3 linked regions of the Homo sapiens genome follow. The protein of the gene in region 1 interacts with the protein of each later gene in a biochemical or structural test. Each region holds a gene or a part of one and is shown in the gene's direction. Other genes may lie near its edges. The genes, in order: ACVR2A, BMP7 and GDF2.

Region 1 (3,754 bases):
CTTCCATGAAAGGGAAGTGAGGCAGTTCAGGAAATAGGAAATTCTAGAGGTTCTTAAGACAACTATCAGAAAGTCTGAGAAACTGATTTCTAGCTATATATAAATTTGTTAGGGCTGCTAGCTCGTTTTTGCTAAAGGCAATACTGCCCTCTAGTGTCGAGAAGGCAATTCCAATTTGTAAATTCCTTGTTTTATAATTTAGACTCTAGAGGCTCTTAGAAAAATAAATAATCATTATTTAAGACTTGATTTAGTTTGTTTGCAGGCATGAAGTCATTGGATCAGTTAACTTGGGATTAAACTGGAGTCAAGAATTTGTTTACCACCTATCTCTCATATCTAAGGGGTTCTTTTTGATATTACTTTCCTCTGTTTGTAAGGAAAGTGTTCCCTATCTTTATTTAAACAATGTAAAACTTTGGATCATTGCCAACTTTTAAAATACTAAACCATTATTCTCTTTCCTTCACTTTTGTAACTGATGTGTCATTTTTCATTTCATTCTGGATATGAATCGTAATTTCTTTTGCCTGTGTTTTTTCTTCACAAGCACGCCTTTCATATAATGATAGAGGTAAGATGCATTGATGTTTGTTTTATGGTTGTGGAACTTTCTGTGGATGCATACTAAACATTTTGTTCTTAGATTTTTGTTGTTGTTACTGCTTTACTGTGCATCCTCTATAATTTATATATTTATGTCATAAAGGGTTCTCCCTCACCCAGCTTTTATAATTAAAATGTGATTGATTTGACTTAGGAATGGCTTTTAGTTTTAAGAGACTGAGAGTATTTATATTTATTTAAGGTAGGATGTAGAAAAAACCGTTTTACTTGATTAGAAGTTAACACCTTAACGGCTCCATTCGCCTCAAAAACCTTGTATTGGTTAATTTTTATATGTCATTAGCTTAAATGTCAGCATGTGTTCATTTTTAACAGGGGTCGATTTTCTAATCCAGCCCATTGTATTTAAATGTGAAATAGATATTTTTAGATAGCTTCATCTTTGGCATCTTTAGCAAATGAACTAGCTACAGGAGTATAACTTTTGATGATATTTTGCTATCTGAGGTTTAAGCGTTTAATTAGATTAAAATTCACCCTTCAAATGGAGAACTCAGAATAAGTAAAATGATCAGAGATGACTTTGTAGCTTCCCACCTCTAATAATTTATTCCACTGTTGGTTATAGTAATGATATTGGGTAGTGGTTTGGGGGCAGGAGATTACTTTTTACCAGGTTATCATTTCAGTATGTGTTCTGAAGCTGATGTCTTCTGATACCATAATTTTTACATATAAATGAGTAAAGAAGAAATGTAATCAGAACTGTGTTTGAATGCATATCTTTTTAGTTTTGCAAAATAGCATGGATGTTGTAAGAGAACTGGAAATTTAGGGAAGTTTTTAGGAATTCTGAAATCCTTCTAGGTGCCTCTCAGCTCCCCATTGGTTTCTCTATGTAGCCAGGTAAAGCCATATTTTGTGTATGACATCAGAAATTGCTTGTCATTTTGAAATTTATGTCTACATTTGTCTTCCCAGGGGCTCATATATTTTAAAGGTATACATTTTTATTTTTAGAATCAAGTATTGATTTTTTTGTGAATAAATTACTATAATGATGCCAATTAATTGAAAATCATTTCTACTATTATAGGATGAGTGAAACTTACAGATGAATTTAAAGTTTCATTCTAGTAATTTTTTATTTAAAAAGGATTAGAGATTTTATAATCTGTCCTACAGTTATCATTTTTGAACCCAATCCTTTGTGTATTAAAGAATATTATTTAAAATTCCATTTTTGAAAAGCTCATGTCATTGCTAAAGGTTTTGAGATTCTACAGGAAGACCTTGTAGACCTTTTTGTCACCCTTTCGAAATTGACCAGTATTCTTTCTAATTGAAGCTTTTACCTTTTAAGTAATTTTGACAACAATATTTGTTCTGGCTGTTACTATACAATATTGAATAAATTATAGTAGGAGGGTGATCTAAGATTATTTCTTTCTGAAATAATGATAGCTTAGAAACTTGTTAAACAGAGCCTTGGGAATGTATGGGAACTTGAAGTATATGCATTTGGAAAACATTTAATGAACTTTTTTTTTTAATGTAGATATTAAAAATTATTTTTTCTAAAATTAATGTTATACTAAAATCATAGTTTGAATTGCTGACATATTAATTGTGGATTAAATAATCTATATCTTACAGACTGAATCATATTCATGTTGTTGATGTCCTTTAGAACAGAGAATGGGTAATGTGTAGATTAACTATAGAGACATTACCAGTGTACATAAAAGCTATTAAAAATCTTAATATTGTAATTTAGCACTGTATTCCCTCTACCTAGTTATTTTTCCTCTTCAGCTTTCAGCCATTTTCTGTATACTTTAGTTTTTAGTTTTTGGCATCCCCTCTGGTTTGAAACCTATCTCTCTACCTTTCTAACATTTTCTATTTAGTTTAAATATGTCTTTATGCAGTTATACAATAACTCTTTGCCCTTGAGGACTGAATGGTTTCCTTTCCTGTAGAAGAGTTGTTTTCAAGCTTTTTTTCTCTTGTCTCCACATTCATATAAGCAGTCTGCTCTGATCAGTAGAATTTCTCGGATAGAGGTGATCACTTGAAGAATGAGGGAGGGAGGGTGTAGTTTTTAATAAAAACTCTCTAGAGGTTCTTGTGTCCCCTCCACTGAGAATCACACTTGAGAGCCCATCCTTCCTATAAGATTTATATCTGACCTCCTTGACCCGTCACTCTGCTAAACAGAAACGTTCTTTCATGTTTTGAATGTGGGAAGGACAAGCAACTTGTAGACAAAAAAAAAAAAAAAAAAAAAAAAAAAAAGTCTGAGTTTGAAATGAGTCACAAGAAGTCTTTTGTTTTATCTTACTGTTTAAACAGGAATTCTAAAGCCATTTTATAAAGATGGTTTCATTTAGAAGAAGAAATTGCATGTTTTTCCTACATAACACCTTGCAATGTTTCTGTTGCTGAGGTTCTTTCTAGTACACAGTAAACTTTTAAAACTCCTGAGTGGCACCAGTGAGCTGAGTGATGCCTAAAGAAAGCACTAACTGTCTTTGAGGCATTAGAAGAAGAGAGAAAAAGAAAGGCAGAGAGGATGCATTGATCTGGGATCACATACCATTTCCAAGTGTCTGAGGTGCCACCCAGTGTCATCATATCAGTTGCTTTTGCCACAGAAATTTTAGTTCCTCCTCAAAATACTCATTATGCAGCCCTCCAAACCCTTCTGTTGCTTTTCTCTGGAAGCTTTCCAAAAGGCTTCCTGCATCTTGCTTTAGTTGCAGATAGGGAACTGAGAGAATGCTTTCAATGGAGGGTTGCATTCTGCTTTGATAGGATTTCCTTGTGATTTGTAGATGCTGTATTCCTATTTATATATTATGTTTGCTCTATTTTTAAAAAACTATAGCAGTGCACGTTTCTTTCATTTACCATATCCTGTTATCTACTATGATGACCACTTCTTTTCTGGATTTTTATTCGTACTTCTTTGCCAGTCAGTCAGTTCCAGAACACAAATGATTTTTTATCTCAGATCAAAGGGATGAATTGTTAATATGTTTAAAATTAGAATGAACCAGTTTGGTTAAAGAAATATTTACTTACATATTTCCTGTATGTGCTTTGTATTTGATATACCTATCTGCAATGTGTTTAAGAATGACTGCCGGTATCTCTGAGATTAATGAAGAAAAAATTTAAACAG
Region 2 (3,754 bases), on another chromosome or scaffold:
CAGCAGGTTGGATGCAGAATCATGCTCTTGTCGTTCAGGATGACCATGGGGACCATGGGGTCTGAGCCTGTGACCCTCCAGTCTACAGTGTGTTGGTGAGGAAGGAGCAGTTGTCACTGGGGTCACTGGCAATGGGCATGCCTCCATCTAGCTTAGGCAAGATGCTTGGACTCAGAGCCAGAGAGTGAAACCCAGACACTAATGAGCTGTCGGTGTTGGTGTGTGTTCTCTTCCTCTTCCAGTGGAACATGACAAGGAATTCTTCCACCCACGCTACCACCATCGAGAGTTCCGGTTTGATCTTTCCAAGATCCCAGAAGGGGAAGCTGTCACGGCAGCCGAATTCCGGATCTACAAGGACTACATCCGGGAACGCTTCGACAATGAGACGTTCCGGATCAGCGTTTATCAGGTGCTCCAGGAGCACTTGGGCAGGTGGGTGCTATACGGGTATCTGGGAGAGGTGCTGAGTTTCCTCTGGGGGCAGAGGAAGAAGGTGGTGAGGGCCAGAGGATGGGTCAGATTGGCACAACCACGTGCCAGGCCCTGTACCAGATTATCCCTTCTAAAGAAGGTGTATGGTGTATGTCACTTCCTTAAAACCATGACCGACAACAAATTCAGGAATAGTAGAAGGCCAGGGAGCCCAGGGATGCGTGGTGCCTTGTGGGTTTTTATAGGCAGTCTAGATCTGGCTGGGTGCTAAGGGACATAGAAGAAAAGGGGAAGGGGAAGAAACATTTTTGAAGGGCTACCTCTCTCCCGTTTCTCACTCTGAAACCCAGTGCACGATGTCAGGCAACCAATTAAGGTGGCCATCTAAAATAAAATGTTAGGGGAAGAAAAAAACCCAAACCAAAAAAAACAGAGAACTCTTAGCCTTCCAAGAATCACTAGGTCAGAAACCAAACGTTTGTGTTGAAAGTCTTTAATTTATCGAGATCCATTAATTTCAAGGTCTTGTGAGAGGTAAGGAGGCTAAGAAAAAGGGCTGGGACATTTAGCAGGTGCATTCTATTCAGACAGTCCCGAGGCAGAAATGACCAAGGTCCTATTACTCAGTGGCTGGGTTGCTGGACCCCGCAGGCTGTCAGACATCTACCGTCCCCACTGGGCAGGGAAATTGATGGAAGAAAGGTGGTGTGGGCACCTCCTTGTGATGTGCAGGCTTAGCATCTTCAGCTAGAAAGGGGACTTGTTACCATAGACAGGGACAGAAGAACCATCACAGCTACGTTTGCCAAGCACTGCTATTTGGTGCTGGTGGGGGGTGGGGGTGGGGATGGTCATCTAAGTACCAAGAAAACAAAACTGTTCTTGAGCGTTTCCAGAGTGTTTTGCACTTGATATCTTGTTTCATATTCACAGTAGCCTTCAGAAGTGGTGGCTTATCTGTAAAATGAGGAGAACTAAAGTGACCTGAAGCCAAAGAATGAGGCTACCCAGAGAGAATGTGGCCACATTAGGACGTGAGCCCAGGTTTGCAAAGCTGGAGCCCATGCTTATGAAAGATATTTCTTTCCAAAATTTGTTTTTAGGCCGGGTGTGGTAGCTCACGCCTGTAATCCCAGCACTTTGGAAGGCCAAGGCAGGTGGATCATTTGAGGTCAGGAGTTTGAGACCAGCCTGGCCAACACGGTGAAACCCCGTCTCTACTAAAAATAGAAAAATTAGCCAGGCATGGTGGCGGGCGCCTGTAATCCCAGCTACTTGGGAGGCTGAGGCAGGAGAATTGCTTGAACCCAGGAGGAGAAGGTTGCAGTGAGCCGAGATGGTGCCACCGCACTCCAGCCTGGGTGACAGAGTGAGACTCTTTCTCAAAAAAAAAAAAAAAAAAAAGTTTTTGAGTAGGCAAGACATGTTCATGGTATAAAATCAAAAGGAAAGAAGAGGAACCACAGTGAAAATGAAGGCTTCCAGCCCCTGCTGAGGTGGTCCCTGATGCCAGTTTCTTGAGTCTCCTGAAATCAGCGAAGGAATCTGTGTTGCTGTTTTCACCTGTGGAACCCCACAGTGCACTCACTCCTGCCTCTGGCTTTCATCGTTGGATGATGAACCTTGGCAGCCCTTTCCAGGGGTTCACACGGGGTGCCCTCATCCTCTGAGTCACCTCACTGTTCCACGGCTTGGGTTGTGCTGTGTTTCACGTGTGCACGCTGGCTCCTCTGTTCTATGATGGATGGTGCCGCAGGGCAAGTACCCTCGCTGACATACGTGTTCATGTCTATCAGTCAGATAAAGTTCTAGAGATAGAATTGTGGGGTCAGAGGGCCCACACATGGGTGGCTTTGGTAGACACTGCTGAGCAGCTCTCCTGGGAGGTGACATCGACATCTACTCCCAGCAGCCAGGGAGCTTCTTGCTTAGGATGAAACCACAGCCTCTGTGTCCAGGCTGTTATCTGGATTCTCCACTCAGCTCCGGCAGCTCTTGGTCCTTCCTGCTGGCTTTGTGGGCACCTGGTCCCATCATGGTCTGTGGTGCCTCTGCTGTCTTGCCTGAGATCCATGGGGTGGATCCTGAGGGCTGCAGGGTTGGGCAGCAGGCCTGAGCACTGTGTTTGGAGGAGGGATGGGCGTTCCAGGCGTCCTCCCTGCCAGGCTGCCGGCAACAGGCAACTTGGGCTGGGGGTGCCCATTCTAGTGCTGGGGTCCTGCTCCTGGGGGCTTCTGGGCTGCTGAGTGACTGAGTCCCTCCTCAGCACAGGTACCTGCTGCATGCCATGCCTGAGGGCATCGACCAGAACGAACCAGACACGAGTCCCTGCCCTCTGGAAGCTCACGTTCCAGCAGAGGAGAGGACATGGCAGGTGGGAGCATTGAGCAAGGAAGGGAATAGGGTGAGAAGCAGTGGAGGGCAAGACGGAGCTGCTTTCTTTAGGTTTCTACATGTTCTTCCTGTGCCTCCTGCAGCAAAGCCTCCATTCTTCAGAAGTTAAATGGTTAAATTTAAAAAATATATTATTTATTCATTTTTCTGGACAGGTTGTTTTGTTTTTCAACCTAGAACCAAGATGCCCCTATGATGTAATTCCCCAGCTATTAAGAGCATGGATTCAAATCCTGCCACCAGCTACCCATGTGGCCTTGGGAAAGAGTCATCTCTCAGAGCCTCAGTTTTTCCCTCTGTAAAATGGGGATAATAATTGAATCTCCCTCCCAGAGTTGTGCTGTGGATGAAAGGGGGTGACATACTTACAACAGTGTCTTACACACAGGAAGTGCTCAATAAATGGTCACCTGCGTTAGTATCATCATCATCACAGCAGGAAGTGGAGCAAGACCTCTTTAGGAAGACAAGAGCCCTGGGTGGTGGCTGTGGCACTGCCTTCCCATGTAGGTCCACCGAGCCAATTCCCCTAATTCTGCAATCTTCCAGTAGGAACAAAGCCCTGAGCTTGCAAATGCTCTTCAAATCCCCCACGCTTCCTCCAGCTCGCCTGTTCAGAGATAGGCTTTTTCTTTGCATGTCCCCAACCTGGTTGCATGTCCCCAACCTGGGCCCGCACAGCTTCTTCCAGCTGAAGGCCTCCTGCAGACCTCAGCCCGGGGGAGCCCAGAGCCTGCCCTGCTGTCCCCGCCATGTGGCTGCCTCTGTCTCTGTGCCGCCAGCTGCCCAGCTGTGCAGGGCTGGGACATCTGACGAGCTGTGCCTGAGCTCCAGGAAAGCCCCGGGGGTGCCGAGGATTAGCCGGCTTTGGGTCAGCCTCAGCGTCTCTCCCCTTGTGGGAGTCACTTTCCACTGACTCCTCTTG
Region 3 (2,789 bases), on another chromosome or scaffold:
CTGGAGCTGAGGGAGATGATCAGCCATGAACAAGAGAGCGTGCTCAAGAAGCTGTCCAAGGACGGCTCCACAGAGGCAGGTGAGAGCAGTCACGAGGAGGACACGGATGGCCACGTGGCTGCGGGGTCGACTTTAGCCAGGCGGAAAAGGAGCGCCGGGGCTGGCAGCCACTGTCAAAAGACCTCCCTGCGGGTAAACTTCGAGGACATCGGCTGGGACAGCTGGATCATTGCACCCAAGGAGTATGAAGCCTACGAGTGTAAGGGCGGCTGCTTCTTCCCCTTGGCTGACGATGTGACGCCGACGAAACACGCTATCGTGCAGACCCTGGTGCATCTCAAGTTCCCCACAAAGGTGGGCAAGGCCTGCTGTGTGCCCACCAAACTGAGCCCCATCTCCGTCCTCTACAAGGATGACATGGGGGTGCCCACCCTCAAGTACCATTACGAGGGCATGAGCGTGGCAGAGTGTGGGTGCAGGTAGTATCTGCCTGCGGGGCTGGGGAGGCAGGCCAAAGGGGCTCCACATGAGAGGTCCTGCATGCCCCTGGGCACAACAAGGACTGATTCAATCTGCATGCCAGCCTGGAGGAGGAAAGGGAGCCTGCTCTCCCTCCCCACACCCCACCCAAAGCATACACCGCTGAGCTCAACTGCCAGGGAAGGCTAAGGAAATGGGGATTTGAGCACAACAGGAAAGCCTGGGAGGGTTGTTGGGATGCAAGGAGGTGATGAAAAGGAGACAGGGGGAAAAATAATCCATAGTCAGCAGAAAACAACAGCAGTGAGCCAGAGGAGCACAGGCGGGCAGGTCACTGCAGAGACTGATGGAAGTTAGAGAGGTGGAGGAGGCCAGCTCGCTCCAAAACCCTTGGGGAGTAGAGGGAAGGAGCAGGCCGCGTGTCACACCCATCATTGTATGTTATTTCCCACAACCCAGTTGGAGGGGCATGGCTTCCAATTTAGAGACATAAAACACAGGCAGATCAAGTAGCATTGATCAATGGCATGATTCCAACTCAGATTTGTGGGACACCAAAGCCCAGGATCTTCCCAAGTGCCCTGCTGCAGTTTAGCAGGTCCTCTCCAGCTAAAGAGCAGTGAGACATTGGGAGCCCAGGAGTGTTGAGGCCAGGCCAGGCTGAGGCCCATCAGTCACAGGTGTGACTGGGCTGCTTGTCACACACAGGGCGTGGTCTGGCCACTGTTGCCAGTGCTCACTCAGCGGCCACATGCTTTTTAATATGACCCCTGAGGCACTGAAAAATAACCCCAGGCCAACTGCAGGATAGAGAGAGAGGTCAGGACAGCAGCCCTGTGGGCTGCATGATACACTGTGGCTGGAGTTATTGTGACCCCCTGGTGCAGTGCTCCCACGGCCAGTGGTGCACACAGGGCCATTCACTGTCCATAGACTGAAACCATGTGACCATTTGAGAGGGCCGGGCACACTTTCCCCTGAGGGATGGGGCAGCCTGTGGCCAGCACCTCTGCAGTTACTCTGCATAGCCAGCTCACCAGCATGCCATGCCCAGGGTGCCCCCCAGTGACAACCTCATGGGAGACGGGCCTGGATTTGAATTTGTTGGAATTAAATGTGCTCTGGCTTTGGTCTTTGAAACATATCTATTTTTATTCCTTGGTGACATGTCCTTAAGTGACAAGACTCCAGCCTTCCTGGGCGAGGCCTCTCCAGCCTCGGAAGAGCTGCAGTCCTTATCGGCTATCACTGGCTCTGCCTGCATTTGCCGGCTCTCTTGAGTCACGTGCATCCCAGCACCCCGCCTGGGCTCGGACTGTGGGACCAGACTCAGCCTCCCCGAACACAAGGGAAGATAAGGCTTCCATTTGCTCTGTGTTTCACCCTCTCCTCTGTCTCTCCAGGCCACACATGGAACGGGGCGGTATGAGGAAGAGTCTGAAAGTGGTGAAGAGTGCACCTATGGCCCTCTGACCTCCAGCCAGAGCAGGGCCTAGGGGAGGCTTAGAGAGGCCAGGGCCTCTCCCCGTGGTTGAAGCTCCCATTTATTTAAGAAAAAGTGGGGGGTGGGGAAAACGTTATGTTAAATGTTTACATGGAACCAATGAACAACTTTAACACACAAATACAACGAAACATTCTTGTTTAATTACTGGCGTTATAGAAAATATGAATTCCTGCTACATGCCGGGCAGTGTAGTGTTACAATGCTATTCCAAGTTGGGTGTTGAGCATCTTCTTTCAGTCCTGGTGGTGTGCTTCTGTGCCTGCTTGAAAATTTCACTCGGAAATAAAGTCAAATGTCTAATTTGCAGCCCCTCCTGAATGTGAGACCCAATCTGGAGGACCCTATAGACTCATACCCTGCCTACCCCACCCTCCAGACCCCACTGGGTTGGGCCTCCCCTTCCTAAGGAGGCAGAGGGGAGGGGCAGGCAGCCATCTCAGGACTGGGTGGATGCAGGTGGGTGGTGTCTGCACACTGGGGTGAGTGATGTGGTGTGTGCACATTGGGGTGAGTGATGTGTTTGCACACTGGGGTGAGTAATGTGTGTGCACACTGGAGTGAGTGATGCAGTGTGTGCACACTGGGGTAATATGTGTGCACACTGCAGTGAGTGATGTGTGTGCGCACTGGGGTGAGTGATGTGTGTGCACACTGGGGTGAGTGATGTGATGTGCACACTGGTGTGAGTGATGTGTGCACACATTGGGGTGAGTGACGTGATGTGCACACTGGAGTGATGTGTGTGCACACTGGAGTGAGTGATGTGTGTGCACACTGGGGTGAGTGATGTGTGCACACATTG

The links.
Region 2: the proteins of ACVR2A (region 1) and BMP7 are reported together in a solved structure, tested with the Homo sapiens proteins (2 studies listed by BioGRID, with this or other methods).
Region 3: the proteins of ACVR2A (region 1) and GDF2 form a complex in vitro, tested with the Homo sapiens proteins (2 studies listed by BioGRID).

The regions. Positions count from the first base shown.
Region 1 is NC_000002.12:147,910,987-147,914,740, forward strand, and holds part of ACVR2A (activin receptor type-2A isoform 1 precursor), read left to right. Parts: intron 1-3,754. UniProt on the Homo sapiens protein: On ligand binding, forms a receptor complex consisting of two type II and two type I transmembrane serine/threonine kinases.
Region 2 is NC_000020.11:57,224,910-57,228,663, reverse strand, and holds part of BMP7 (bone morphogenetic protein 7 preproprotein), read left to right. Parts: intron 1-242; coding exon 243-435; intron 436-3,754. UniProt on the Homo sapiens protein: Growth factor of the TGF-beta superfamily that plays important role in various biological processes, including embryogenesis, hematopoiesis, neurogenesis and skeletal morphogenesis.
Region 3 is NC_000010.11:47,325,302-47,328,090, forward strand, and holds the end of GDF2 (growth/differentiation factor 2 preproprotein), read left to right. Parts: coding exon 1-483; 3' UTR 484-2,287; downstream 2,288-2,789. UniProt on the Homo sapiens protein: Potent circulating inhibitor of angiogenesis. Signals through the type I activin receptor ACVRL1 but not other Alks. Signaling through SMAD1 in endothelial cells requires TGF-beta coreceptor endoglin/ENG.